Linked DNA regions of Homo sapiens. The protein of the gene in region 2 purifies or fractionates together with the protein of the main gene of each other region. This does not show direct contact. Each region holds a gene or a part of one and is shown on either strand. Other genes may lie near its edges.

Region 1 (7,025 bases), on a different chromosome or scaffold from region 2:
AAGTGGGAGGATCACTTGAGGCCAGGAGCTAGATACCAGCCTGGGCAACATAGTGAAACCCCATGTCTACAAAAAATTTTAAAAATTAGCTGGGTGCAATGGCATACACCTGTAGTCAATGCTAGCTACTTGGGAGGCTGAGGTGGGAGGATCACTTGAGCCCAGGAGTTTAAGGCTGCAGGGAGCTATGATTGCACCATGCTCTGCACAACAGAGTGAGATCCTGTCTCTAAAAAAAAGAAAAAATGAATTCCAGCTTCTTCTGCCTGGGCCCAGGTCTAGAAATATAAAAGTTACCCATTCCAGTTCCCTCAACATTACAGAAAAGTCAGGGGCGTTGTCTGCAAAGCTGGGCAAGTCAAGCTGTGACCAGGTGTTGGCTGCCTTGGCCTAAGACATCTGGGTTGTGTAAACTCATTTCTTTGTTTGTATATTTTCTTGCTTGGGGTTTGTTTTGTTCTATTTTCCCTTTCATTTCCTAGAAAAGCATCTTCTGGAAAGTTCTAGCCCTTTCCCAGCTACATAAAGAGGGAAGGGCCCTGGCCGCTGCACGCATCACCCACGCAGGAGGCCCCTAGAGGCTAGGGCTTACTCTGCAGGGGCAGCTCCCCAGAAACTGGGGACCTGGCTGGAGGGGTTGAGTGACCACAGGTGTCAATTGCTTTTTGTCTTCACACACAGAAAAGAGGTGGGACTAATAAATGGGCTGCTATTCCCCAGAAATCAAAGTTCACCCCCTCCTCGCTGCTGAAACACAGCTGGATTAGGGCCTTCTGTCACTTCTTCATCTCTGTCATCTTTGAGCCTTTTTGGCTGGGTCTGTCTCTGGCAAGGGTCAAAAATCTTCCTCCTCTACAGATTTTTTGGGAGGTGTTCAACCTGATTGACATCATTAGGAAGGAAGGCATGCCAGGTCAGGGATGCACAGCCTTTGCCATTTCCAAACTTACAGCTGCCTCTTTTGTGCTGTCATTGACGTCTGGTGACTCATCGCGTCTGTCCCATCTACTCCTGCTAATTGACATCCTCATTAGCAGCCACGCTGCCCCCATCTCAGAGCAGCCATCAGAATGAGCCCTGTCTCCATCTGCCTCTTCCCAGCCTTGCCAGTTATTGACATCTGCACTGAGCCTTTGAGCTTTGCCTAGTCTTTGGTGGACCTCGGCCATGATGGGCCAGTCTGGGTATAAACACCATGAAATAGAACCATCATGACGACAGATTTGTACAGACCAGGCTCTAGTGCTGGCTCTTGCTAACCAGCTGGGAGATCTTGGTCCAAGCTCCTTAGCCTTGGAGCCTCCATTTCTCCATCTGTAAAATGGAGATGATAATGCCAACCCTGCCCACACTGGGTTGTGGTGAGGAACAAATGGGCTGTGTGGAAGAAGCCCTGTACCCCACAGAGCACTCATAGACACAGATGACTGATCCCCTCTCTTCCCTACAGCTGCCCTGCACCACATTCCTTCCACCGGCTAGATGGGGGTGCTCCCAAGGTTCCGCTTTCCTGTTAACACATTGGAGCAAGGTTTTGTCTTATTACAGTCTACCTTCCAGTGACCACATCTCTGTCCATAGCTTCAACAAAACGTAGCTCCATGGAGCCCAAGTCCTTCCCCTAAGTGCCAGTGCCACGTGTCAGATGGCTTGCTTCACAGCTCCATCTGGATTTTTTCCCTTGTGTCTCAAATGCATGTCTGAAAATTCAGTATCTTTCCATCTGGCAGACTGTGAACTTTGCATTAAGTCCTTTCCCCAGGGGCCAGGCTCTTTCCCCACCCCCCACCTCCACCTCTCTTTACTGAGGCATCATCAGGCATCTTCCTCATGCACCCTTCATCCTCTCCCTGCCCACCAGCCCTGTCCAGTGGGCTATGCTAGCTGGTGGCCAAAGGCTGCTGACTTGTCTCCTGACCACAGCATTCCCTCATAGCTCGTCCTTTCTGCTTCGAGAGATACAACTGGTTTGAGGGTTGCTTTCTTACTTAGAAACCCTCGGGAGCTCTCCGTCACTTCCTGAATACAGTCCCGATTTCTTAGGTATTTCAAGCCTTTCCCAAAGTGATCCTGGCCAACTCACTCAGCCTTTTCTTTCATGTCTTCTCCTTTCTGTGTATCCTGCCTTCCAGTTAGATGGAAATGTGCTCCATTTCTTGGGCCACATCTTTCTTTGCCTTGCCTCCAGTTCCCCATCCCGGGACGTCTGTTGAAATCTTACTCTCCTCTGAGTGCAAGCTCACATGCAGCCCACGCTAAGAAGCTGCCGTGATGGTTCCTGGCAGCAGGGCTGAACACACAGAAGAGCATGTCACGCCAGCTGAGTGGCCCCAAGCATGCAGATGGCAGTGGGGAGCAGGGAGGCTGTGTTCTTATCTTCTCCACAGGCCGAGACCAGGTGTGTCACCTCATTTGACTTCACAAATTCTAACTCCAGAAAGTGTTTGTATGTAGTTTTTCAAAAATTTTTGCCTCATTAACTAATAGATGCCCCCAAAATGGCACAAAAGTGCTACAGAAACTTGGAGAATTAAGAGCTCACCCCAAGCGAAGGTGGTTTGCAAAGGCTGCCCAGAGACGTGAGGTTTGATTTGCCTTAAGGGATGGGTGAGTCTGGAGGGTCGCCAGGAGGCGGGGGATGGGCAGCCTCAGTAAGGGGACTGGAAGGCACCAAGTGGGGGCCAGGAGAGAACAGCGAGTGTTCCAGAAGTGTGGGCAGAAATAGAGCACCTCCTAGTCCTAGTAACAAAAATAGCTAATACATTTTGTGTTATTGATTATCTTGTATTATTTCATTGAATCTTCTCAACAACCACATGAGGTGGCTGCAGATGAGGAAAGTGAGACGCAGAGACAACTGTGACTCATTCAAGGAAATGCGCGACCCCATGGGGAGTTGGGACTCAAACCCAGGCATCCTGAGTCCATGCTTCCAGCCACTGCATGTTGCTGCTGCACTCAGCAAGATGTCTGAGAAGGCAGACAGTCCAACTTCCTTCCTGTGCAGAAATCTCAGACTGTCTTATTCCTGGGAGAATAAAAAATCTAGACCCTAACAGGTGTACAATGAAGAGTTTTGTAAGAAAGAAAGATTCAAAAATGAAATAGGTAACATATGGGCATTGAATGTGGAGCTGGATTTTAGCCTATATTCAATGGAATTGGAAGGTTTTGTGCAGGGAAGTGATGTAATGAGCGAGGAGGACGTGTAAGATTAATCTGTGGTGAATGTGCACTGACACTGGGGAGATCAATTAGGCAGAAAAAAAAAGGACTTTTAAAGAAGACAAATATTACTGGAACAGGCCGCTGGAGCAGTCTGGGAAATGAGCAGAATGACTTTTATAGAGCGTTCCAGGGCTTCAAGTAAATTCGAATTCAAATTTATTCTTCCTGTATTATTTGCTGCATCCTAAAATGGGCTAGGAAAAAAAAAACAGTGAATTTAGTGAGCATTTATTGTGTCCTTGCTGTATGTGAGGCCTTGTGCTAGGGACTTAAAACAATTGGAAAGATATCCAGGTGCCCCTAGGAATGGAGAGGCCAGAGGCACAGTGGCTCCCATCACCAGGAAGACTTGGTAGGAAGATGACAGTTACTGAGCTCCAGTTTTGTGCTAAAACCTCTCATCTCATTTAGTTCTCTAAAGAGCCCTTTGATGGTCACATCTTCCAGCAAGGGACCTCAGTGAGGGTGAGTGACTTGCCCAAGGTCACATGACTCATAAGTGGAAGCTGTCTTTGCAATCAATTTATTGTCCACTGAAACGGTTATTTATTTTCCTCTCTCTCTGTGTCCTTATGTATTATTCAGTAAAGTTCAGCTTCCTGGGTTTCTTCTCTCTGCTTCTGTAACTACTGCTGGCTTTTTTTACTTACTTTTCCCTCGCTTCTATGCCACTCTGCTTTGTGGAACAACCTTTGTGTGTCGGGCCATTCTAGCTGTGTTCTCTGGTAAGAACAGATTCAAAGTCCTGGCTGGGCATGCTGGCTCATGCCTGTAATTCCAGTGCTTTGGGAGGTTGAAGTGGGAGGATCGCTTGAGCCCAGGAGTTGGAAGCCAGCCTGGGCAACACAGCAAGACCTCATCTCTACCAAAAAGAAAAATATACTAGCCGGACATACTGCCACATGTCTGTGGTCCCAGCTAATCAGGAGGCTGACAGCGGAGGATTGCTTGAGCCCAGGAGTTAGAGGGTGCAGTGAGCTATGATCATGCCACTGCAGAGGGAGTTTTAGGGGATTCCTTATATGAGTCAGTCTTAGTATTTAGCTACATCGTCGGTTACCCAGCTACTAAAATACTCTTTCTGATTCAGGGATAGTGGACATGTGGACCCCTGGAGCCAGAATATGTTCAGAATTCTGAGATGATGATCCAGCCAGGCTGTGGGTAATGGTCACCAACAGGAGGAAACACTGGGGAGACACAGCACGGCCTGGAAGGAGGAGAGTTAGGCAGGTGCCTCGTTTCTCATGTTGTGTTATGAGAACCACACGGCCTCCCTGGCCACATATAAGCTGTGAGGTTTGGAAACGTCACACTCAAGCCTAGGTGAGCAAACCGTGAGGTATCCAGGAAGGTGTCTAAGGACGTTGTACAGAGCTGAATTGGTGTATGAAAGCCACTTATTTCCATAGCCTAGGAAAGAGTACAACCCGAGTTGACATGAACAGAGAAATAGGCGTAACACATCCTTGGCAGTGGCCCCTCTCTGAGAGTAATGTGAACTTGATGGCAAGGCCCGGCTTCTTCTGCAACCCTCAGAACGTTGGTTTTGCTCTGGGGTGGTTCTTCCTGCAGGGAGGCAGAGGGAGCAGGCGTGCGGAGTGCAGCACTCGGCCCAGCTGCCTGACTTCTCCAGCGCCAGGTCATGATTCCCGGCTGGCTTCGCTGGCCTTGTTTCTCAGCAGCCCTGATGCACATCAGTCTGTGGGGCTTTGTCCCATATGTCTTTCTGGTGGGACAGCAGCTGGACAGATGGCGTGTGGACTAGAGGGTGTCTGTGGGGCACAGGCTCCACACGGCTCTTCTCCGCTTCCTCCCAGGTGCTGGCCGGGATGAATGTCTACTCCTCTGAATTTGAAAACATCAAGGAGGAGTACAGCGTGCGCGGCTTCCCCACCATCTGCTATTTTGAGTACGTCCCCCACTTTCCTTCTAAAGCTCACCTCCCTCCCTGGTGATTGACCATAATCTCAGGGTGGCATTTGCATCCGTGACTGAGCCCACGTTGTTTCTCCACGTTTCACAGGAAAGGACGGTTCTTGTTCCAGTATGACAACTATGGGTCCACAGCTGAGGACATTGTGGAGTGGCTGAAGAAGTAAGTGGGGTGTGTGTGTGTCAGTGGGCGTGGACCCAGAGGGCGGGGCATCTGCCGGGCCTGAGGGTCGCAGGGCTCTGGCTGGAGGTTGGGGGAAAGAATGAGGAAGGGAATTGTGGTACTGCCTACACAGCTGTCTCTGGCTTGAGTCTAGGCCACTGTGGGGATTGTGGGAATTTAGGTTGCAGGAGCCATGAGGATTTGGTGTGACTTTGGCCTGTGATGATCAGACCTGCCTGGGTGTTGGGTGTGGAGTCTGTCTCCCCTACCTCCCGTCTCCACGGGTTGGAACTGGGGAGGGGCTGCCTAAGCCTGTCAGCTCTTCTGGAATAGTCAGGGCCTTTCTGAATTCTTCCCACATTTCACATCAAGTTTCTCCTCAACACATCTATCTGATGGATAGAGGTATTTCTCACCCAGGCTACCAGGTTTGAGAGAGGTTCCACTGCAGGTCTCTCTGAAAATAGAATTGTCAGTTGAACACTTATTTCAAACACAGCACTGTCTTAGGTGCTGTGAAGGTACTAAGAAATATTCTAATGCCTTAGGTTTGCTGAGTGCTTTACTGTTCAACCCCCACAGGCATTGCTTCATTGCAACCTGTGATCCCTGTTTTATAACATGATTAGATCCTTGTAATGCCAAACCCCACCACCCTGTTGGCTCCTGCCTCCTTACCTGGAGCCTCCACTGTGCTAGGCCTGCTGCTTTGTCCTGCCAGATCACCCCATTCCCACTTCTCACCAGCACTTCCACGACAGGCTCACGATGTCCCCTTCTGGAAGCCTCCCCAGGCCACCCTCGCTGAGCACGCACCCTACTCAGGCTGCGCTCTGTGTGTCACGAGTTTGGCACTTACCAGCCACTGCTGCTTCATGAGTATTTGTGCATATGTGCTGGAGTAACAACAGCCAACATCTTTTGGGCTCTCCTTTGTGGCTGACATTGTTCTAAGCACTTTACATGGATTCTCATTTAATCCTCACAACAGCACTGTAAGGAAGATGTTACCGTTCTCTTCATTTTATGAATGAGGTCCCTGAGGCACAGTAAAGGGGTGGTGCCGGTAAGCAGTAGCAGGGCCCTGATGGGTCCCCGCCACCAACCCAGCTCCCTGCAGCCCCGACAGTCCAACTTAGCCTCCTCAAGTTCTGCTCGGAGCCCCTCCCCTCAGCTGCCGGCACAGTGGACATTTATTGACATCATTACCTTAGGAACACAGTGTGCAAACCCCAGGGTTAAAGAATTAGTTATCCAAGATATGGAGGTTGAAAATGTGTATTTTCAAAATGGGAAAGAAGGGTGGGTTTTGTACCAGGAAAAAAATGCACATGAAACTAACTGTTAGATTTCTAAAGGTGGAGAGTCTCCATCTTCTGTTCTGCCTACTCTCGGGAGATAAGGCACAAGTGCTAGCACATGTTTGCATCATGTCTTTTATTTCTTGGAAGCATTCTCACATCTCTGTCCCCATCGGCTACCTCATTTCCAGCCCCTGCCTGGGAAGGCTGCTGCCCATTATCATGTGTTCATTGTCTTAACCTGGGCCTTTGCTTTCCTGTTTTCCTTTTTCATTTGATAATAAGCGTGTCCTCTCCTCTATCCAGACACATCTCATTCTGCTTTGGGAGAAGGTCTCAACAAATAGCAATCTCATTTGTCACTAGAGCATAAAATCTGTCTGCTTCCCTTCCCTTCT
Region 2 (6,917 bases):
AGAGTGTGGCCATTCCTCAAGGATCTAGAACAAGAAATACCATTTGACCCAGCAATCCCATTACTGGGTATATACCCAAAGGATTATAAATCATTCTACAATAAAGACACATGCACACATAGGTTTATTGCAGCACTGTTCACAATAGCAAAGACTTGGAACCAACGCAAATGCCCAAGACACATGCACACATAGGTTTATTGCAGCACTGTTCACAATAGCAAAGACTTGGAACCAACCCAAATGCCCATCAGTGATGGACTGGATAAAGGAAATGTGGCACGTCTACACCATGGAATACTATGCAGCCATAACAAATGATGAGTTCATGTCCTTTGCAGAGACATGGATGAAGCTGGAAACCATCATTCTCAGCAAACTAACACAAGAACAGAAAACCAAATACCGCATGTTCTCACTCATAAGTAGGAGTTGAACAATGAGAACACATGGACACAGGGAGGGGAACATCACACACCAGGGCCTGTCGGGGGGTTGGGAATTAGGGGAGGCATAGCATTAGGAGAAACACCTAATGTAGATGACGGGTTGATGGGTGAAGCAAACCACCATGGCACATGTATACCTATGTAACAAACCTGCACGTTCTGCACGTGTACCCCAGAACTTAAAGCATAAATACAAAAAAAAATGTTGTTAAGTTGCCAACAGTCTTGACTTCCTAATACAAAGAAATTCATTCTCTTGAAAGGAGTAGGAACCTGTAATATTGGGCTGCCCTGGAAATAAATAGGGAACCATTTATGATCAAAACAAGCCACTGTGTATGGAGTATCTTCTCACTAATAGACACTTTAGATGCATTATTTCATTTAGTCCTCATGCCAATCCTATAGAGTTTGGAATTATTCCCATCTTAGAGCAGAGGCTCAGAGAGGTAAACAACATGCTCAGGATCACATAACTAGAAAATGGCAGAACTAGGATTCAAACCTCCAGGCTGCCTCCCTGGCTCAGGAGGCCATCTGACCTTGTCCCTCTTCCTGCCTCAGTCTGTCCATCTGAGATAAGGGAACAAATTCTTCATCCATCAAACAGCAAAGACTCCCTCCTTTGCTCCTCCACCTCTCTCATCTGGCTGCTGCCTGCTTTCTCTCCAAATCTTCCTCTCTCCTTCTGGTCCTCCTCTCCCTGGCCCAGAGGAGGGGACTCATGACCTTGAAGCTGCCCTTGGTGGGCTGCCAGTCCCCCTCCACTTACCACCTCCCTGCTGATCGGTGTCTTGGGTCACCGTATTACAAACCTTCCCAGCCTGTGCTGGCATCTTCAAGGAAATAACAGAGAGGAAAAGTCACAGGGGCTGTATTCTGGATAAAGAACATCATTACAGTACCTTGGTTCTCTCCAGGTCCTATCCCTGCCTCTAATCCTCAGCATTTTCCTCTGGAGAACGGAAAGCTGAGATTCCATGCTGTTTAAGCCACCCCCTGTTCTGATAGCCTGGTGGAGACTGCAGCTCCAGCAAGCACCTTTGAGAGAGTCCCCAGCTCGCGCTCACTCAATCCTTAGAGTGGAAGAGATTGACTGAAAGACGACGAAGGGCGATACAGTGTCCAGGGAGGATTCCTCACTTTCTTCGAATCACTCAGCCAGTTGGCCTGAAAGGCAAAAGCTGAACCCTCACTATGACTCCAGCAGCCATGGGATGGCGGTGTGACCTTGGGCAAGAACATTTTTTTCTCACCGATGCTCCCTTACACATCTTTAAGATGAGCGGGGCATTTTCCTAAATCTGTAAAGTTCCTTTCCGCCTGGACAGAGGAATTGGGGAAAATCTTGCCAGGCCAGGCTCTCCCAGTCTTTCCCCAGGGCTGGGGGAGGCCCCCAGGGAGGGACTCCAAGAGGAGAGGTGAGCGCCCCAGGCTCCGGGCTTTCCCGCAGGGCAGGCTTCGGCCGGTTCGAGAAGGAAACTGCGGCCCCGGGTCCCCAGGCCGCGGGGAACAATGTCCCGGCTGTGCGTGCCCGGAAGCCCGTCATGCACCAGAGACTCGAATCCCAGCTAGGGGTGGGGACCCCCCCTTGGCTGCGTTTCAACGACGCCTTTGTCTACCCCTGGGCCGTGCGAGGGAGAGGACTGACGGATCTGGTTTCAACCGCCTTGACTTTCCCGGGGGTCCCCGGGTCCGGGGGCGCCCCTGTTCCCGGAACCCGGGCCCTCCCACCTCCTCCCAGCCCAGCGCGGCCCCGCCCCGTTCCCGCTCGGCCGCCGTGGGGTTACCATTGGGCAGAGAGCAGAAGGTGGCACAGCCCGCGCTGCAGCACTTGAGGTTGTCGGCGCATTCGCTGTCCGAGACGCACTCTTGCGTGCAGTTCTGGTCAGCCTGGAGCTCGGGGCACACGCCAGTCTTCTCTGCTCCTGTGCCTGGGAGGGGAGGCCCGGGACAGTCGAGGGTGGGGCGTAGCGCCAGCCCCAGAGGATGCCCACCTCCTGCTCCAAACCTTAACCCCAAGGAATTCTCAGTCTCTGGCCCTAGGAGTCCCCTTACAGCCCCCAGAGACTCCTTCTTCCAGACCAGGAGTCCCTGACCCCTGGGAGTACGAGAGCTCCCTAACCCTTGGCGTCGGGGCCCTCAGATCTCAGCCCTAGGGGACGCCGCACAGCTGAGCGTCTCGGAGCTTCCGAGGTCGAGGCAGAGCAGCCCCCACCCCCAGCCCACTGCAGCCACGGAGTGTCCGCGTTCAGCACAGAATCCTCCCAAATTGCAGCCATCAGTGGTCTCTCCACCTCCAGCACATTGGACCCCACACCCTAGGCTCCAAGGGTCCCCGCCACTTCCGCCCCCGGAATTCCCACTTCCCCAGCCTCCAGAGGCTACGCCTCCGCCTGGCTCCATCCTGGCGCTCGTGGCTCGGCCCCTCTAGGCGCCGGGCCTCTCCCCGCCCCACTCACCTGAGACTAGGGTGAAGCCGAACAGCAGCAGGCTGAGGAGGAGGGCGGCGGCTAGCGGGCCTAGGCGACAAGCAGGCATGGTGCTATGCCCGGGCGGGGTGCAGGTGTGAGCCGATGCTCAGGTGCGGGGATTTAACCGCGCGCGCGGGAGGGGGCGTGGGGTAGGGGTGGAGCCGAGCGGGGAAGGGGAGGGTGGAGGGCTTTGCGGGCACCGCGGGCGGGCTGCCACATGAGGTCATTTCACAATCCCCCAGGATCAGGTATCACTCTTGGCCCCGGTGGGAACCAGGAACTTAAGCAGCTTCCAGGACGGGACCAGCTACGGCCGGACCCTTGTCCACGCCTCCCTCCTGACCTCCCTCCTGGGGCCTGAGGGCCAAGGCTCAGGGCTCCTGGGTTTCTATTCCAAGACTCCGAGGTTTCTCCAGAGTGTCCCCAGTGGGCGGTTGAGGAGGATAAGGCAGGGCCCGCAGGGAGGCAGTAGAGCATGCGGGTTAAAGGGTTCGATTTGGGGTCAGCCAGATGAGAGGGCAGATCCCTCTTGATGGAGGGCTAGGGTAGTGATACAGAGCACATAGTAGGGGCTACAGAAATAGCACTTATTATTAATAAACAAACCCTCCTCATCAGAAACAGGCCCAGGAAGGTGAAGCACCTAGCAGTCTCAAGCCGTTTGGGTGTGTGTTTCTGTCTCCCTCTCTTTGTCCTACCGGCCCCTGATCAGGGCTGACTGTGCCAGGCTCTGTGCTCCTTGTCTCAAGGAATTGTCGCCGGTCCTCTGACCGGGGAGTTACTGTTATCAGCTGTATATGACAAAGGAACTGAGTGTTTAGGGATTTAGGACCGCACCTCCACCACAAGGTCCCCTGCAAAGCTGTACAAATAAGGTTTTGAACCCAGGTCTCTCCCTCCAGGCCCTTGTTTTTTCCATTCCGTCGTAAATATTCACTGGGTGCCTACTGTGTGACATATGCAGGGCAAGACGCTTGGTGAAGAGAAAGTCGTCAAAAGGGGCCCTCCAGCACTGGTCTTGAAGGGGTGACAGGGTCTGGGGTCTGACTCCCACCTCCACCACTTCCCACCTGAGGGCCCTGGAATGAATCCTTTCCTGGATCTGAGCTGCCACATCATCAGTGAAAATGACACCTATATGGGACTTCAGTGAGAACACAAATGCAACGTTCCTGCCACGGAACAACCATGTACTCACTGGGAGCATTGAGAGTAGATCCACACTGATTGACACAGGGACTCCAGGCCTGACCCATGATAGGTACTGGATACATGGCCATGAGTGCTCCACAGATAAGTGTCTCCTGTGACGAAGGAGACCAATAAGTATAAATGAAGCTTTAGAATCCAGGGGGTTAAGTGCCAAAACAGAGTTACCCAGGGAGTTAGACAAGAAGTGCTTCCTGCTCCAATGATCTGAGGTTCTAGAAGCCCCAGGAGGTCTTTGCTGCTGGAGGCTAGAGGGGCCCTGGGGCAGTGAACACTGGGATGATAGTGACAGGTGAGTAGGGTTTGGTGATGTGAGTACATCTGGCCACTGTCCCCAAAATGGATGCTGAGAACACCTCCCCCAGCTTCTCATGCTCAACTTGGGGACTGGGGACGTTATTGGGAGGGGCCAGGGCTATTTACTCTGAGCTCAGTCAACAATGAGGGCAGGAGCCAGGTGGGAACACAGCCCATAACAGGCTAGTGAAACCCAGTCTAGGGCACAAAGAGAACACTGGGGTGAGCAGCCAGTTTTTAGCCCGTGGACCCAGCTGGCTACTGTACATTCAGCCCCAGGCACTGCTGCCAACAGCTTTCTTCCGGGCCCTATTCAGCTCCCTGGGCCAGGAAACTGCCCAGCCTTGCTCCTCCCAGGCCCTTATGAGCACCCTATTGATTGGCTCTCTCTTACAGGAATACAGACTGAGGGAGAGTGGCAGGGCCAGGCAGAAGGATGGGGAAGGAATTTTCATCAGTCAATGGCATCAGATGTTTAGCTTTTGTGGTGCCAAGTTCCGTGCTAGGTATAGTTATAGATATTCTCTTTACATCATTTAAAAGGGCAGAGGCTTTAGAACCAAATGCATCCATGCCCAATCAGGGACAATGCATCCATGGCCACTTTCTGGCTATGTGACTTAGAGAAACACTTCATGTTTTGGGCCTGCATCTTCTTCCTGCATAAACTGTGTATCATCCTAACAGTCTTGGATGATTATTATAAGGGTTTTATAAGATTATTATAAGGGTTAAAGGAAAAAGCATAAATCAGAGGTTGCAAATCTGGCTAGAGCACATACATTATTAACTACACAGTATGTTTTAAATTTTTAAATTAGTTGCCAAGATTTAAAAGTAGCGAATTTCATATAAAAATAAACCTCTAGCTTCTCTTGGAAAAAGTAAAAGATCTGGCAACACAGTCCTGCAATCTTAGATATAACAACCATCAGCTAGAGCAGCAGGTCTCAAAATTGAGCATGCGTCAGAATCATTTTTTTTGTTGTTTTTGTTTTTTTGAGACTGAGTTTTGCTCTGTCCCCCAGGCTTCCCTCCCCTCCCCTCCCCTCCCATCTCCTCCCCTTCCCTTCCCTTCCCCTGCCTCCTGGGTTCAAGCGATTCTCCTGCCTCAGTCTCCCAAGTAGCTGCGATTACAGGCGCCACTACACCCGGCTAATTTTTGTATTTTTAGTAGGGACGGGGTTTCACCATGTTGGCCAGGTTGGTCTCGAACTCCTGACCTCAGGTGATCTGCCCGCCTTGGCCTCTCAAAGTGCTGGGATTACAGGTGTGAGCCACAGTGCCCAGCCTAAGCATGCATCAGAATCACTTGGAAGGCTTATTAAAATACAGATTGCAGGATCCCCATCCCCAGAGTTTTGATTAGTAGGTCTGGAACCTGAGAATTTGCATTTCTAACAGGTTTCCAGGTGATGCCAATGCTGCAGGGCTAGGGACCATACTTTGAAAACCAGAACCTAAGTACAGCTACTCTTTTTCTATGAGGGAAGCATTCCCTCCAGTTTCCCATAATCCCCACCACCACCATCCTCCCTCTCTGCAACTAGTTCCATTCACAGTGCTCACCTGACCCCAGGAGGACATTTAAATTTGTGACCTCTGGAGTGGGCACATAGTAAGTGTTTGGTGAAAGATAGCTTATATGTATTTAGCAATCTTATGGATTAAGTATTATTACTCCCATTTTACACGTTAAGAAACTGAGATTCAGCTAAGCAAAGTGACTTGCTGGAGGAAACACAGCCAGTAAATCAGAGGGAAGACTCTTGCCAAATTACTTGTGTTGTCCCAGTTATTTCAATATTATACACATTCACACAGATCTATCTGAGGTTAACGTAGATGATGCATCCAAAGTTTTGGACTTGACTTCATGAGTGTAAAAAAATATATATCAGGGAAGAGGAGGAAGAAAAGAAGCAGAAAGGAAAGAAGGAAAAGTTTATAGTGGTAGATGATGTCAATTAGCTGTAGACATGCCCACTCTAAAATGACTGTAAACAAGTTAACGGTGAAGATTTAAGAAGTTTCCAGGAACAAAAAAGGTGCCTTTAACCATGCAATGGGCCTCTCCTTTTAGACTTTTGGACTCAGTCAAACTTCCTTTCATTCCATGGAAACCTCTCTCTTTGGATATATTGACTATTTTGTTTTGTCACCTAGCATTCATTTGTCCTTTTTCTGATAAATCACCCTGAGTTTGCTTTGGAGGAAATAACTTCCTCCAGACCAAGACAGGTGGGGCCAGGGAGACTGTCAATTAATGTGTCTGCCCTACCCCCAGGCAGAGTGGCCAATCAAATACTGTTCCTAGAACTGTAATCTTGAGCAATGAATGATAAAAGACCTGAAAATTTATGGAGCTAACTCAGAGGTGTCCTGGGAAGAACTCAGTTCTGACTTTACCATTCTTTCCAAGCTGTGTTCTTTTAGCCTTTCCTTCAGTTCTGAGAGCTAAACTGAATCAATTAGTGCTATTGGGTGC
Region 3 (7,285 bases), on a different chromosome or scaffold from region 2:
GCCTGCTGACAAAGCCAGTACTAGCACCCCACTGCTGCCACTGTCACTGCCCACACGTCAGCTAATACTTCAGCAGCACAGTGTCAGAACTAAGATTTATGATTCCCTGGCTTACTGACAAAAACAACCACAATTTGTCCAGCCCCCTCATGTGACCCATAAAAATGGTCCCTGGGCATTTTTGTAGAAGAAATGCCTGTATGGAGACCAGCGGGCTACTGATCCTGAGGTCTGGGTGCCTCAGGCTGGGCCTTCAGCCCCAGGCAACTGAAAGGATATGCATGCACTGAAACAGGACGCTCAGGAAGTTGTGCAGGGACACAATGAAGGTGTCAGCCCACTGTCGAGAAAAGTAGGTAGCAAAGGTGGGGTTGGTGTCCGGGGATGGCAGGAAGGGCAGGACAAACCAATCCTTCCACTCAGCCTGGTTCTGGAGTTCCGTGGCCTGCTTTGCAAAGAACTCCTGAGCCTTGTCATTTCTGTTTGTCTGCCAAGACACAAGGAGGTAGCAAGGAGGGAGGAGAGACAGAAATCCAGAGGTAAGACTCTTCATCATTGCACAGCAGACAACCTTTGACTATCAGCCTGCCAGGTAAGTGGCAAAATAAAATTCCATAATATAAAGGAAATCATCACTCTTTTCTCAAGGAACTTGTCATTTCAAAGCTGGTTTAAGCTGAAGTTCTAATGATAAATCCCATCCTAAAAATTAATCCCTAGCTGATGTTCAAATAACTAAGTGACTCATTCCTCCAGGTCAGCTATCATCTTTATTACTCAAACTTTAACCCAGCTACTTATATTCTTTAAAATACCACCTTTGTTTTAAGCTTACATGCTTAACATAAAAAAGGAAATAGGAATGGGGAAGACAAGTCAGATGATCTACAGATGACGACAAGGAAAAAAAAGAAGAAAAACAGTCAAAAATAATTGCACTGTAACTGCTGCACTCTTTCCCATAGTCACATACAGATTCCTCCCTAGGAACTGGAAGAAAATCTATTTTGGGATCAAAGAGCTCCTTCCACCAAGGGAAGCAGAACCCCTGAATCAACAGGCACCTGGATTGTGTAGACAAGATAAAATCGAAACAGGCTGGTTTTCAGCTTGTGGATTGTGGGTCTGTATATATCCTCCAAGCGGCTGAAGAGCCGACGCTCCAAGTAGCTCCAATAATCCCGAAGGGCAGCCAAGTCATACACCTGCATTAACTGCTGCAGCTGGTCCACAATCTTATCCACCTGGCGAGAAACATGGATGGAGAAGGTGGTAAGGGACAGAAGGGAATTCTCCCCTCCATGGAATAAAGCTTTTTCCTCTTGTCATGGCTTCTGGGTGTAAAAAAAAATTTGTAAGTTAGCAATCTATAAAATTTTCAAAACATACTAATGCAACGGTTTTTCAGTAATTTTCTGATGTTAGAGAAGTGGTTTGACCCTCTAGCAAGCACGGAAATTTCAGGTGTAAAAGGGCTCTGGCCCAGAACCTAAGAGATCTGGCTCCAGATCTTGGATCTGCCTCTGACTTACTTGATCAATTTGGCAGTGTCATCAGGCCAGGCACCGTGGCTCACGCCTGTAATCCCAGCATTTTGGGAGGCTGAGGTGGATGGATCACCTGAGGTCAGGAGTTCGAGACCAGCCTTGCCAACATGGTGAAACCCCGACTCTACTAAAAATACAAAAATTAGCTGGACGTGGTGGCACGCGCCTGTAATCCCAGCTACTCGGGAGGCTGAGGCAGGAGAATCGCTTGAACCCAGAAGGCAGAGGTTGCAGTGAGCTGAGATCGTGCCACTGCACTCCAGCCTAAGCGACAGAGTGAGACTTTCTGTCAAAAAAGAAAAAAAAATGGCAGTGTTGCTTAACTGTAGTTTCAGTTACCTCACATTTTTAAAAAAGGGGGTGGGGTGAAGAAGAGCTATGAGACAATCTCCACAATTCCCAGATCCCAAGGATCATGAGGAGGTGCATGGACTGACTCCTTCAAGTCATCAAAGTTCCACGAAGCCGTGGTAGCTGCTCAGAGTGTCAGCCAAGGAAGTCACCTTCTTGTGAGGAGCAATTACAGCAGAGTACAGAATCTGGAAAAGGGTTTGGATATCAATACCAATCCAATGCCCCTAGTTTATAGATCAGGCCACTGAAGCCCAGAGGGGTGAAATGATTTGCTTTTGCCACTAAGTAGCCACTAACTTTGGCCAGGCAGGAAACCAGATCTCCTAACTCCCCTCCAGTGCTCTTGCTGTTAGCTCACTGCCTCTCATTGAAGTCAGTACACACAAACATACAAATCACACACATATACATTCCAAGAACCTCGCAATGGAAAATCATTTTAGAGCAGGGGAAGTTTGGGTTTCTCTAATGTGCCATGAGGTCTTCCACAACTGCAGAAGCAAAATTGCCGATGAGTCCCTGACGAGGCCATTTTAAACAAACACCGCAGATACTTGAACGCAGCTAACGTTTTGGACTGCAGACTTCTTTGCTTCCACTGCCACTGGAAGCCAACACGAATATCTGTTGCCAAAACGCAACCATCTACCTAACCTCGGCTCCTAAAACCTCATCGCCATCCTGGCCAAGGAGGCTGGAGTGGAGACAGAACCCTAGACCAGGAGCCGGGGCATCGGGGCTCCAGCCTCGGCGATGCTCCTGACTCGGGGGGCGGCTTCAGGCAGGTCCTGTCCGTCTGAGGGTCTCAGTTCCTCATCCGTCAAGCTGGGGTCGGACGCGCTGAGGTCTCCGGCGCCCCGGCGCGAGTGACAGCGCCGCTCTCGCCCCGGAGGCAGTGCTGGGGGGAAGCCCGCTCCCCGGCTCCCTCGGGCCGCCTCTGCCCGCGCCGCTCCCGCCGGCCTCTCACCCGGAACCCCTTCTCCTTGTCCGCCTTGATCTCGGCGTCCAGCTGCCGCAGTGTGTGCGTGAACCCGCGGAAGAGCAGGTACTCCCGGACCAGCTCGTCAGTGCGCTCCACGGCCTCCGCCATCGCAGCGCTAGCGTCTTTAGGGGTGGTGCGGTGAGGGACGGAGGGGCGGGGCCTGGGAGAAATGGGGCGGGGCCGGACGCGGGCGCCGAGCACGTCACGCCGCGACAGGCCTACCAGCCCGCACGCACTGGGCGACCAGCCTGAGGCCCCGCCCCTCGGCCGGCTCCCCGCCCGAGGCCCCGCCCCTGAGCCAGCCCCAGCCCGCCTGGCCGCTCGAGTCACCCTTACCCCTCCCGAGGAGTGGCGAGGGGAGGTCCTGGCGGCGCCGGCGGCGGCTTTGTCTGAATTACTGAAAGTGGCGGCTGCCACCCACGTCAAACAAGACTGGATCTTAAGAACATCCCAGGTAGTCCCGAGGCGGGCAGGGGGTGCGGCGCCCTGTTGGTTGGCGTTACATCGCAGAGCTCCCGGTCCCCTGCCCTCCTCCTACACGGAGGAAGCTGGAGCCCTAAGAGCAGAGTGACCTGCGTGAAGCCACAACACGCGTGTCCTCAGAGAGCGCTAACTCCCCCAAATCTCTGCTTTCATTAGTAAGACGAATTGGCTACACAGCAAGATAACCAAGATGCACTGCTAGGATAGGCAAATTTCATAGCAGTGTATGTACGCTATAGTCCTGGTTTCTTGTGAAAAAAAAATTAGGTATGTATGTGTGTACATTTTTTAAATTCAGGAAGATTATACACCAAGTTCCTATGCAGTCGGGTCTCTGCATCCTCGGGTTCCGCATTCACGGATTCAACCAACGAGGATTGAAAATATTTTTTCCAAAGTTTTAAAAATAAAAAATAGCCGGGCGCAGTGGCTCACACTTGTAATCCTAACATTTTGGGAGGCCAGGGTAGGCGGATCTCTTGGCCCCAGGAGTTGGAGACCAGCCTGGACAACATGACGAAACCACATCTCCACAAAAAAAAAAAAAAAAAAAAAATGCGGAGCGCAGTGGCTCACGCCTGCAATCCCAGCACTTTGGGAGGCCGAGGTGGGCGGATCACCTGAGGTCGGGAGTTTGAGACCAGCCTGACCAACATGGAGAAACCCCGTCTCTACTAAAAATACAAGATTAGCCGGGCGTTGTGGCGCATGCCTGTAATCCCAGCTACTCGGGAGGCTGAAGCAGGAGAATCGCTTGAACCCAGAAGGTGGAGGTTGCAGTGAGCCGAAATCGCGCCATTGCATACCAGCCTGGGCAACAAGAGCGAAACTCTGTCTCAAAAAAAAAAAAAAAAAAAAATTAGCCGGGCGTGGTGGTGCTGCCTGTGGTCCCAGCTACTTGGGAGGCTGAGGCAGGAGGATCACTTGAGCCCAGGAGGTCGAGGCTGCAGTGAGCTGTGATTGTACCACTGCACTCCAGCCTGGGTGACAGAGCAGGACACCGTCTCAGTTTAAAAAAGAATACAATTTTTAAAAACACAAATTAAATATAGCATAACAACAATTTACATAACATGTACAATGTATTCAGTATTATAAGCAATGTAGAGATTATTTAAAGTATACAGGAGGAAGTGTATAGGTTAGATGCAAATACTAGGCCTTTTTACATCAGGGCATCCATGGATTTTGGTCTTCTAGGGAGGGTCCTAAAACCAACCCCCTGCAGATACCAAGTGACAATTGGAGTGGTTTTATCTGAGAGGTGAGACTATGAAGGACTTCTTGTTTTTTACTTTCTTTTTATTGTTGAAGTTTTTACAAGGTGCACGTATTTTTGTAAGTAGGAAAATAGCCAATATCTTTGAGACTTGCTTCTGCAGAATGGTGACAATAGGCCGGGCGCGGTGGCTCACGCCTGTAATCCCAGCACTTTGGGAGGCGGAGGCAGGCGGATCACAAGGTCAGGAGATCGAGACCATCCTGGCTAACACGGTGAAATCCCGTCTCTACTAAAAATACAAAAAATTAGCCGGGCGTGGTGGCGGGCGCCTGTAGTCCCAGCTACTCGGGGGGGCTGAGGCAGGAGAATGGCGTAAGCCCGGGAGGCGGAGCTTGCAGTGAGCCGAGATCGCGCCACTTCACTCCAGCCTGGTCGACAGAGCGAGACTCCGTCTCAAAAAAAAAAAAATGGTGACAATAACACCCACCTTGCACAGTAGTAATGAAGATTTAATAAGACAGTGTATGTAAAACGCTTAGCACAGTGAATGGCCTATTGGTAAAATGCATGGAGTGTTCCCTTCTCCTTCCCTCGAATGGTATGACTTTTCGTGTTTGTCAAAATACAACTCAGAATCATTGCTGCCCCTCTGCTCAGACCCTCCACTCCTACTCTATGGAAATTCAGCTCCAAAAGGGCTCTGATCTACACTAGAGAAAGCCAAAAAGATAGCACAGGGCAAGCCACAGCAGGACGAGACAGACCTTGTTCTGCCCTCTTTGTTTGCCCTACCTGTCTCCACAAGTGTACCCTCCAGGCAGCTAAACTTGCCTCAAGGGCAGGAAAGGAGAGTCACCACTGTGACTACTGGGAGACCAACTCCTACTTTGAGATCTCAGATCATCAAAGTGAACTTGGAAAATTTGGACAAGTTGCAACCACCAAAGCTTCCACCTACAGGAAAGTTGTGAAGTAGATTTCCCTAAGGGCACCTGAAGTCTGCAACCATAGTTCTCACCTCCCCCACCTCCATCTGCCCTGACACTTCCCAGACCAGAGCCTGTAAAACCAGCTAAGATTAGTTTTCTGATCAATGAAAGGCAGCTCCTCAGAGCTTAAGTACAAGCCGTTTGTTCTACAGGAATGTCTTCTCCAAGATACCCACAGGGATAGCTGCCTTTCCTCCTTCACGCATTTGCTCAAATGTCACTGTCTTAGTCCTTTGGGGCTGCAATTTTTTTTTTTTTTAGAAATGCCATAAACTGGGTGGCTTATAAGCAACAGAAACTTATTTCTCATAGTTCTGGAGGGTGGAAAGTCCAAAATCAAGACACTAGCAGATTCATTGTCTGCTGGATGCCCACTGTCTGGTTCATAGATAGTGCCAAGTTACATGCTCAGTAGAGAGCATCCATCGCCATAGCCTTTGGTAGATAAATCTTTTCTTACTGTAGTCAGTTCCTTAAAAAGTCATGAGCACCTCTGAAAACTGGAAATGGCCCACAATGATCCATCCAGTAATTCACAGGTTTCCTATTGGTAGCCCTCATGCTTGTTGTAGGAGGCAGCCTATGTATATGTTAATCTTTCGTTCACTGAAAATCAGTGACACACAATAGATACCCTTTTTCACTTCTCAAATTAGTAATTTTTAAAATGTATTGCCCACTGTTGGTGAACATAAAATGAAAGGGGCATTGTCATTAAGCTTCAGAAGGAGCTACTTTTCTAGGAGTCAATTTATAGATTATCAAAGCTTCCAAAATGTTTCTACTCTTTAGCCCAGTGATCCCACTTAATTTCTTTAATTTCCCTTAAAAAAATAATTTTAAAAATAAGCTGAAAGAAAAAAAAAAAGGCTGGGCACAGTGACTCACACCTGTAATCCTAGCACTTTGGGAGGCCCAAGTGGCAGAATCGATTGAGGCCAGAAGTTATGACCAGCCTGAGCAACATAGGGAGACCCCGTCTCTATTTTTTTAAAAAAGAAAGTAAATTAATTTAAACATTAAAAATAAGATTTATGCAGAATGGGGTTTTTTTTAATAAAAGTGCAACTTATCTTTAATAATGGAAGTTATTTACAATAGTGAAAGGTATAAGTATTTAGAGGCTACAGTGAGTTACCCTCCAAGATCTTGGGAATGAAGAAATTGTACTTCCCACTGAGAGTTAAACGGCAAAATCAACCTAAGATGGTTTAGAGTCCAAGGATGCAAAATCAGTGGAAAGAGAGAGAAAAGATATTAGGCTCACTGGCCTTGGTTGAGGACATTCACTTCCAAAATAAATATTATGTCAGTCGGAAGAGGTTTTAAACACAGGCACCCAGAAACCAGAGAGTGCCATGGGCAGGGCCCATGCTCATTTGCAACACAGCCGGCACTTGTCCTATGTTCTGACCTATGGCAAGGCCATCCCCAAAATGAGAAGGTGGCACTAGACCATCCCAAAATTGGGCCCCGATAGGCATCCCACTCCGCTTTTCCTGGTACAAAGCTCACAAAAAGACCATTTGTGTCCTCAGCATTTGACTACATGGAAACATAGCATTCCAGTGTCTTCCTCCTGGTAAACTAAAAGGCAGTTTTTGATTACAATAGTCTTCCAACATAGGTGGAAAGGATATCATTTATGCCAGTGTTACCACGAATAGTCCCTGTGTGACAGTTATATGTCTCATTCAGATTTACAAAG
Region 4 (7,025 bases), on a different chromosome or scaffold from region 2:
AAGCAAAGTAAGCATCTGCGTACCTATAGCTGGGACCTATCCCTATAGGTTCTTAAAGCTGGGACATACCCAGTGGTCTTGACCAGCATATGTATCACTCAAAGTGAGAGTCGGGAGTCTGTTGGGGTATCTGTGACTTGACCAAAATGGCGTGCTTAGAGTTGGGTTTAGGATTATTGTGGGTTTAGGATTTAAGATGATTGTTCAGCCACTTCTCTTAGAAGGGGAAGGCAGATGCTGGCCTCTGTGTGGGGTCCCCATGCCCGGTTGAGCTCCTTCCTTCCCTCTTCATCAGTGTTGTTACCTTCCACACAGATTCATGGAGACCATGAGCCCAGATTTAGGCTCAGGAAAGCACGGGAAGCAGAATTCCCCCCAGGCTCCTCTGAGGAGCCTCTGCTGCAGTTCCCCTCAGGCCTCAGAGGCAGCCCTGTCCTCCAGGTGGGCCTGGGGCTTGCTTCTGCCACTCACTGTGGGTCGATGTCTTTTCTAGGGGGCCGAGGCGTCAGCGTGGGCCCCATCCTCAGCAGCAGTGCCTCGGATATCTTCTGCGACAATGAGAATGGGCCTAACTTCCTTTTCCACAACCGGGGCGATGGCACCTTTGTGGACGCTGCGGCCAGTGCTGGTGAGTGGAGGCAGCCATGCCCTGTGCACCCTGACCCCTCACCCCAGACCCACAGAGGACTCCAGACTGCCCTGCCCCCTCCAGGATAGTCTCTTCTGGCTGAGGGAGAGCAGGGCAAGTCATCGTCTGCACCACACAGAGAAACGCTGCTTGTCACTTCCTATTCCTTAGCTCCCTTGGCTCCAGCCACAGGGAGTGTTTGCTGCTGGGGAAAGGGGTCTGAAACTCCTGCCAATTGCCATCTTCCAGTACCTGAGATTGCCCGCGACCCTCCAAGTCCTGCTTGTGTCTCTCAGCATCAACCTATCCTCCAAGCTGCCTCTCCCCACCTTGGCCCCCTCCCACATTTATCTTCAACATTCAGTTCAATACAGTGAGCATTCATGGAGCCCCTACTAAGTGTCAGGTTGGCACTGGGAACCAGGGATGCCCACTTGAATCAGGCTAAGACCACCCTACACACAGAAAAGGCAATGACTTTCTAGAAACAGATGTAGACAAAAATATCCGGCTGTAATAAGAAGCAGGATAAAACCCACACAAAATAGTGCCCCAGGCCCCCAGCTGTGCTCCTCCTCCTTCCTCTGCACTCATCCCCCACCCACCTCAGGGCCTTTGCACTTGCCATGGCCTCTGCCTGGACTGCCCTCCCCCTTCTCTACCTGCAGAACGTCGTTTAGCCTTCATCGTTCACCTCAAATATCACCTCTGCAGAGATTTTCCTCACTCCCTGTGCCACCTAGCAGAAACTGGTCCTTCCTCCTCCTGCTGCCCGTGGCATGCACGTCTTCTTCAGGCTCCACATTGCCATCATGGTTTGTCTATGAGCTTTACAAGGACCGGGTCACGGTTCTATTCATTCTTGACGCAAGGCTTGGCCTCCAGTGCCCACCGGTAAATTCTGCTGAATGACAGAGTGGACACTTCCTGCGAGTTTTCGGATGTATGATTGCATCCCAGGCACCCCTGACCATTTCCCCCGACCTTGCCAATGAATGGGAGGTTTGATTTCACCTCCTTCTTGGAGGCATGGGGAAGAGCTCTGGCCTGCAGGAGTGGTGAGTGGGATCTAGACACAGAGATCAAGGGTCCTGCAAGCTCTGGCTGTTGCCAGCAGTTCACATCGAATCCCTGCACGTGTGCCAGTCTGTTCTCTTGGATTCTTGGACTTACGAGTACCTACCACCCCAGCATTCTGCCCAGGAGCTCCACTGTGGGGACTTACTGGCCCAGAATGCACACCCACCCCCAGCTTTTTGCCATTCAGCTCCCTACCTTGCCTTACCTCTTATCCTTCTCTGGCAAGGCAGAAGTTGGACTCCCCTGGCCTGTCCTCCCACCTGGCTCACCCCTCCTAGTGCTATCCTTTGGCAGCAAATTTTCTCATTGCTGAAAAATCATAAAGCAAAGGGGAGGGAATAGTGGAGAAAACCTAGAGGATTTGATAAGGTGTTAAAGAGATGGAAGCAGAGGTGAGCGAACAAGTTGGAGTGGGAGAAGGTATCAGGCGGGAGGAGAGAGGCAAGGTGCTAGGCCCGTAATTGAAAGTCAGAATGATTGCAGGGGTTTAACAAGACATGTCAAGAGGGCATTCATCACCCAAACAGATGCTGCTGTGAAATGCAGCCTGGCACCGATTATTCCCGTGAAAGGGAACCAGCTCCTTGTCAAGGTGCCTCATAGATAGGAGAGAAATGGGCCAACGCAGAAGGCCACCGACATTTGGGCCGAGGAGTTTGGCAGAGAATTAATGGAGTATTAATCCTAGGGATTGGAGGCTGCCCCTAGTCCTCTGCGAACCCTCTTTCTCAAGTCTCACTGCCTCTTCTTCCCACACCTCCCCCAGCTCCTTCTCTCCCCCAGGAGGACACTCAGCCTCCAGGGTTCTCAGGGGGCCCCACCCTGCCTTCTGGCAAGAGCTCCCTGTGTCCTGGGGTCTCTGATCCCCACTGCCTATTACATTGTCCTGTGGTCTGCCATCCCAGAGAGCCTGATGACCCACAGCTATTTGTCCTCTGAAAGAGTCAACGTGGGTGGGTGCTTAGAGTCGCATTCACCTCTGTCTCTCAAGCTATGCACTGGCCAGTGAGCAGCTAGGAGGTCAGCCCATCGCTCTGGGCAAAGCCACCCTCTCTCCTCCCCCAGCACCCACTCCGTGGATAGTATAAGCAGGTGGCATTGGGCACAGAGGCTTCGCTTTCCAGGTCTCACCAGGCATGCTGTGGGCTTCTCTGTCGTGGCTGTAGTATTTCCTCTGCTGTCACCCACGTCCCCGGTTTGCCTTCTGTCATGTTATTTATGTCTGTGCACTCATTCAGCAAGTATTTACTGAAAACTACCAGGCAACCACAGGCCCTGAGATAGATGCTGCGTGTACCCAGGTGAACCAAGAAGAGAGTCTTGACCTCATGGAACGTCAGGGATAGTGGGAAAACCGGACCCTAACAAGTCAACCACAAAGGAACGTAACCGCACATTGTGATCAACATGTTGGAGGAGAAGACTAAGAGGCTGTCAGGGAGATTGACAGGGTGGGCAAGATGAGCTGTCTCAGATGCGTGGTCAGGGAGGGCTTCCCGGAGGAAGTGACATTGTGGCTGAGAGCAGAATAACCAGGAGCTGGGTAACCTAGAGCTAGAGGGAGAGCATCCCAGGTAGAGACCTGCTTGAGCAAAGGCCCAGGAGCTGGAAAGATGGGGAGAGTGGGACCAGATCAAGACCAGATAAGGCGGACAGGACCATGGTCAGGCAGAACCCTGTGCTCCCCAGGCAGGAATTAGAACTTTCCCTAAAAGGATTGGAGGGCATGATCAGCTTAAGCAAAAGAGTGGCATGATCAGCTTAATGTCTTCCAGTGGCAGTGTTAGGGGTGGCCGGGAAGAGCCTTTGGTCCTCCAGAATTTCCCCCAGTCTCCCTCCCCCAACCCATGCCACCCCCCAAACAGGGTAAAAATAATATGCATGCTGGGCAAACACAGCTTGAACACAAGTCTTGGGTCTTCTTTTCAAGCACATGACTGTCCCACTTCCTGCCCCTATAGAGAGCTTCTGAGACTGCAGCTATGTCTCCCGTATCTCCTCCCGGGAACAAGATGAGAGTCACCCTCCCTAGTTGCTTGTCACAGAGCTAGAGCAGGGTGAGTGTTTGTGGAGTGTGCAGGGGATGCCGCCCTGAGAGTTCCTGCCTCTCCTCCCCAGGTGTGGACGACCCCCACCAGCATGGGCGAGGTGTCGCCCTGGCTGACTTCAACCGTGATGGCAAAGTGGACATCGTCTATGGCAACTGGAATGGCCCCCACCGCCTCTATCTGCAAATGAGCACCCATGGGAAGGTCCGCTTCCGGGTAAGAAGGGGCCTCACCCCAGGAGTTCAAGACCAGCCTGTCCAACATGGCAAAACCCTGTCTCTACTAAAAATACCAAAAATTGGCCAGGTGTGGTGGTGCGTGCCTATAATCCCAGCTACTCCGGTAGCTGAGGCACAGGAATCTTGAGCCCAGGAGGCAGAGGTTACAGTGAGCTGAGATCGTGCTACTGCACTCCAGCCTGAGTGACAGAGCGAGACTCCATCTCAAATAAAAAAATAAATAAATAAAATAAAATAAAAAGAAAGGGCCTCTCCCTCACTCCTCCCTACAGCACCACTGCAGGGGTGCCCCGGCATGCCATGGAGCTGCCTCGCTCCTCCCACCAGGCTGAGCAGGGCTCAAGGCTCTCAGGGCCCAGAGTGGGGGTGGGGTGACAAGGAAGGTTACACCAGGGGACGAGGGACTACAGCTGGGCTGCTGTAGGAGCTCTGGATCCAAGAGTAGGAAGAACCAGGTCAGCAGAGGTGGGAGAGCAGCCTCCGAGGTGGGCCGGAGTCCTGGGAGGTGGACTGCACTCTCTGGATCCAGGCCATTTTTTCTGGTGGCTCCTGGAAAGGATCCAGCAGCTAGAGCAGAGAGTGTTTGTGGAGTGTGCAGGGGATACAGGATGGCATCCCCTGCACACTCCACAAAAGCCAGGCCTCAGCTTTTTAGACCTTTTCAGACTGACGTTCAAACCAAGGGCAAAGTGGTGGAGAGAATGGAAGATTGAAGCCACGGAGTTCCCAACAGCTGCCCCTAAAGACAAACAGCAGATGGCAGGCAAGGTGGCCTCAGAGCCCTCTCTGTGCCCCCTCCCTGAGCTGTTGATAGACCGATGCCAAGAATTCTTCAAAAGGGCTGTTAGTGACAGTGATGGAGGTGCCAACAGCATGAGGGGCATGGGTTTGGAACTTTCTCAGGGAGGGCAACAGAGGGCATGGGCTGGTTGAAGCTGATCTCAGGGATCCAGGACTGTTCTGCAGATACCTAGGTCTGCCAAAAACCCCTGAGGAAATGGGAAAGTTCCAGGGTTTTCCTGAGGCTTGAGGATCCCAGGGAAGTCCCCAGGGACCTCATGTCTGTGTAACCAAGAAGAGGCCACCCCTACCAAGTCCCTTCCCTGTAAGCAGCCACCTTGGGACGCCCAGGCCCAGCCACTCCCTCCCTGCTAAGGCTTGAGACTCAGGCTCCCTGGGCTGGGAAGAGGCATGCCCTGAGCCCAGGACAGCTCGTCCTGGGATCTTGGACGATTTCCACCTTTATTCTACTCTTGTTCTCACCCAGCTTCTCAACAGGGATGATCTTGCTGCCCTCCCTCTGGGACATTCAACAATGTCTGGGGACATTTGGGTTTGTCACAGCTGGGGAAGGGAGGGCTCCTGGCATCTAGTATGCAGAGCCCAGGGATAGGGCTGAACACCCTACAGTGCACAAAGCAGCCCCACAACAAAGGATTATCCAGTCCCAAACGCCAACGCACTGAGGGTGAGGAACCCTGTTAATTCTTCCGAAGGCCCCTCCCCAGAGCTCTCAGGAGCAATAATAATACTAATAATACATAAATGCCCTATTTATCAAGTGCCTTCCATGTGTCACGAACTGTGCTAAGCTTAACATACATTATCTCGGAAGCTCAGGCATCGAATAGGGCAACCCCAAGGGGGCTATGGGAGGTTTCCATTTTTATAGGATCAATAGAATCATAACGGCTAGAGATCCTGAGGTCTTTTTGCTCCCTGGCTCTTAAGGCCCAGCTCAACCCACCCAGACCAGCTGGCCAGGCTTATTCAACCTCATTACTCCTCTGATGGAGACAGCCTCTTTCCCTGGCCTCCCCAGAGCAGGCAGCTCGACCGCTGACCCAGCCTGCTCATCCCTGTGGCTGCCAAAGAGGGTCTGCAGCAGGAGGCCGAGAGCAGGCCCAAGTCGGGTAGAGGATGCTCCCAGAGACACCACCTGTACCTTTCTCAGCCCTCTCCACGTGGGCCCTGGGACTTAGACATGTCCCCAAGGTCTTTAGGGGAAAAACCCACCTATGATGAGGATATTACGCTCAGAAATAGAAGATTGCCCTTCCCAGCTCTCCTTCTATTTCAGAGGCAGAAACACACCTGGGACCCTTTGCCTGGTCCCCCAAGGCCCTCCCAGTACTTTGGAGTCCCAGCTGGGCTATCCTGGGCCTGGGGTCTCCCCATTAGTCCTGGACAGGTGTAGCTGATACCGCAACCCCCTCAAAGCAAATGTCTCAAAAAATAAAAATAAAAAGACTCCCAAGAAACAACGTAAGGTAGTAGAGGCAGCCAAATCCACAGCTACAGGTAACCTCTTTCACCTTCCCTGAGGCAGGTGGTGGGTAAGGCAGGACAGGCTGCCAGCGAGCTATGTCATGCCCACTCTGTGCCAGGCATTTTACATGCAATCCTCACAACCCAGGCAGCTATTACTATTCCCACATTACTGATGGGGAAGGTGAGATCCAAGGGGGTTAGTAACTTGCCTAAGATCACACAGCTAGTCAGTGGTGGAGCCTGGATTTAGATGCACAGAGATTTCCGGTGCCCACCCAGCTTCTGACTCAGCACAGAGGAGGAAGGGTGCCTAGGAGAAAGGGCACAGAGTCCGGAATCAGAAGCCCTGGCCTCCCCACTCAGTAGCTGTGACATCGCAGTTCCCCTCCTTCTCCAGGACTCAGTTACCTCACCCGTCAAATGGGAAGGCTAATGTCTGTACTGCCTCAAGGGATGGACAGAAGGGATGGACAGGTGTGATCCAGACTAGGGATCGGCTAAGCACTTCACTGGTGTCTAGCACGACTGTTATTCTTCCCTCCTTCTTCTCGTACAAGCAGCCTGAGGTCTGTGTGGTCCTAAAGGCAGCCCCCAGGTCCTTTGCGGGAGGCAGGAGAGGAGCTTTTGGGTTGGACTGTCTCTTATTTTTAATTGCCCCCACACTCCATAGAGGAGAGCTGGCCTCCCGCCCCAGCCCACTCTCCTGCCACTGACCCCCAGCCTTGTTTCCTCCAGGACATCGCCTCACCCAAGTTCTCC

Evidence for each region.
Region 1: the proteins of WFDC2 (region 2) and PDIA5 purify together in Homo sapiens (affinity purification with mass spectrometry; 2 studies listed by BioGRID and IntAct, with this or other methods). This does not show direct contact.
Region 3: the proteins of WFDC2 (region 2) and WDR91 purify together in Homo sapiens (affinity purification with mass spectrometry; 2 studies listed by BioGRID and IntAct, with this or other methods). This does not show direct contact.
Region 4: the proteins of WFDC2 (region 2) and CRTAC1 purify together in Homo sapiens (affinity purification with mass spectrometry; 2 studies listed by BioGRID and IntAct, with this or other methods). This does not show direct contact.

What each region holds. Positions count from the first base shown.
Region 1 is NC_000003.12:123,119,018-123,126,042, forward strand, and holds part of PDIA5 (protein disulfide-isomerase A5 precursor), read left to right. Parts: intron 1-5,048; coding exon 5,049-5,140; intron 5,141-5,254; coding exon 5,255-5,326; intron 5,327-7,025.
Region 2 is NC_000020.11:45,465,855-45,472,771, reverse strand, and holds the start of WFDC2 (WAP four-disulfide core domain protein 2 precursor), read right to left. Parts: upstream 3,020-6,917; 5' UTR 2,991-3,019; coding exon 2,912-2,990; intron 2,384-2,911; coding exon 2,240-2,383; intron 1-2,239.
Region 3 is NC_000007.14:135,208,512-135,215,796, forward strand, and holds the start of WDR91 (WD repeat-containing protein 91), read right to left. Parts: upstream 3,016-7,285; 5' UTR 2,992-3,015; coding exon 2,869-2,991; intron 1,245-2,868; coding exon 1,065-1,244; intron 488-1,064; coding exon 280-487; intron 1-279.
Region 4 is NC_000010.11:97,901,616-97,908,640, reverse strand, and holds part of CRTAC1 (cartilage acidic protein 1 isoform A precursor), read left to right. Parts: intron 1-493; coding exon 494-628; intron 629-3,826; coding exon 3,827-3,972; intron 3,973-7,001; coding exon 7,002-7,025.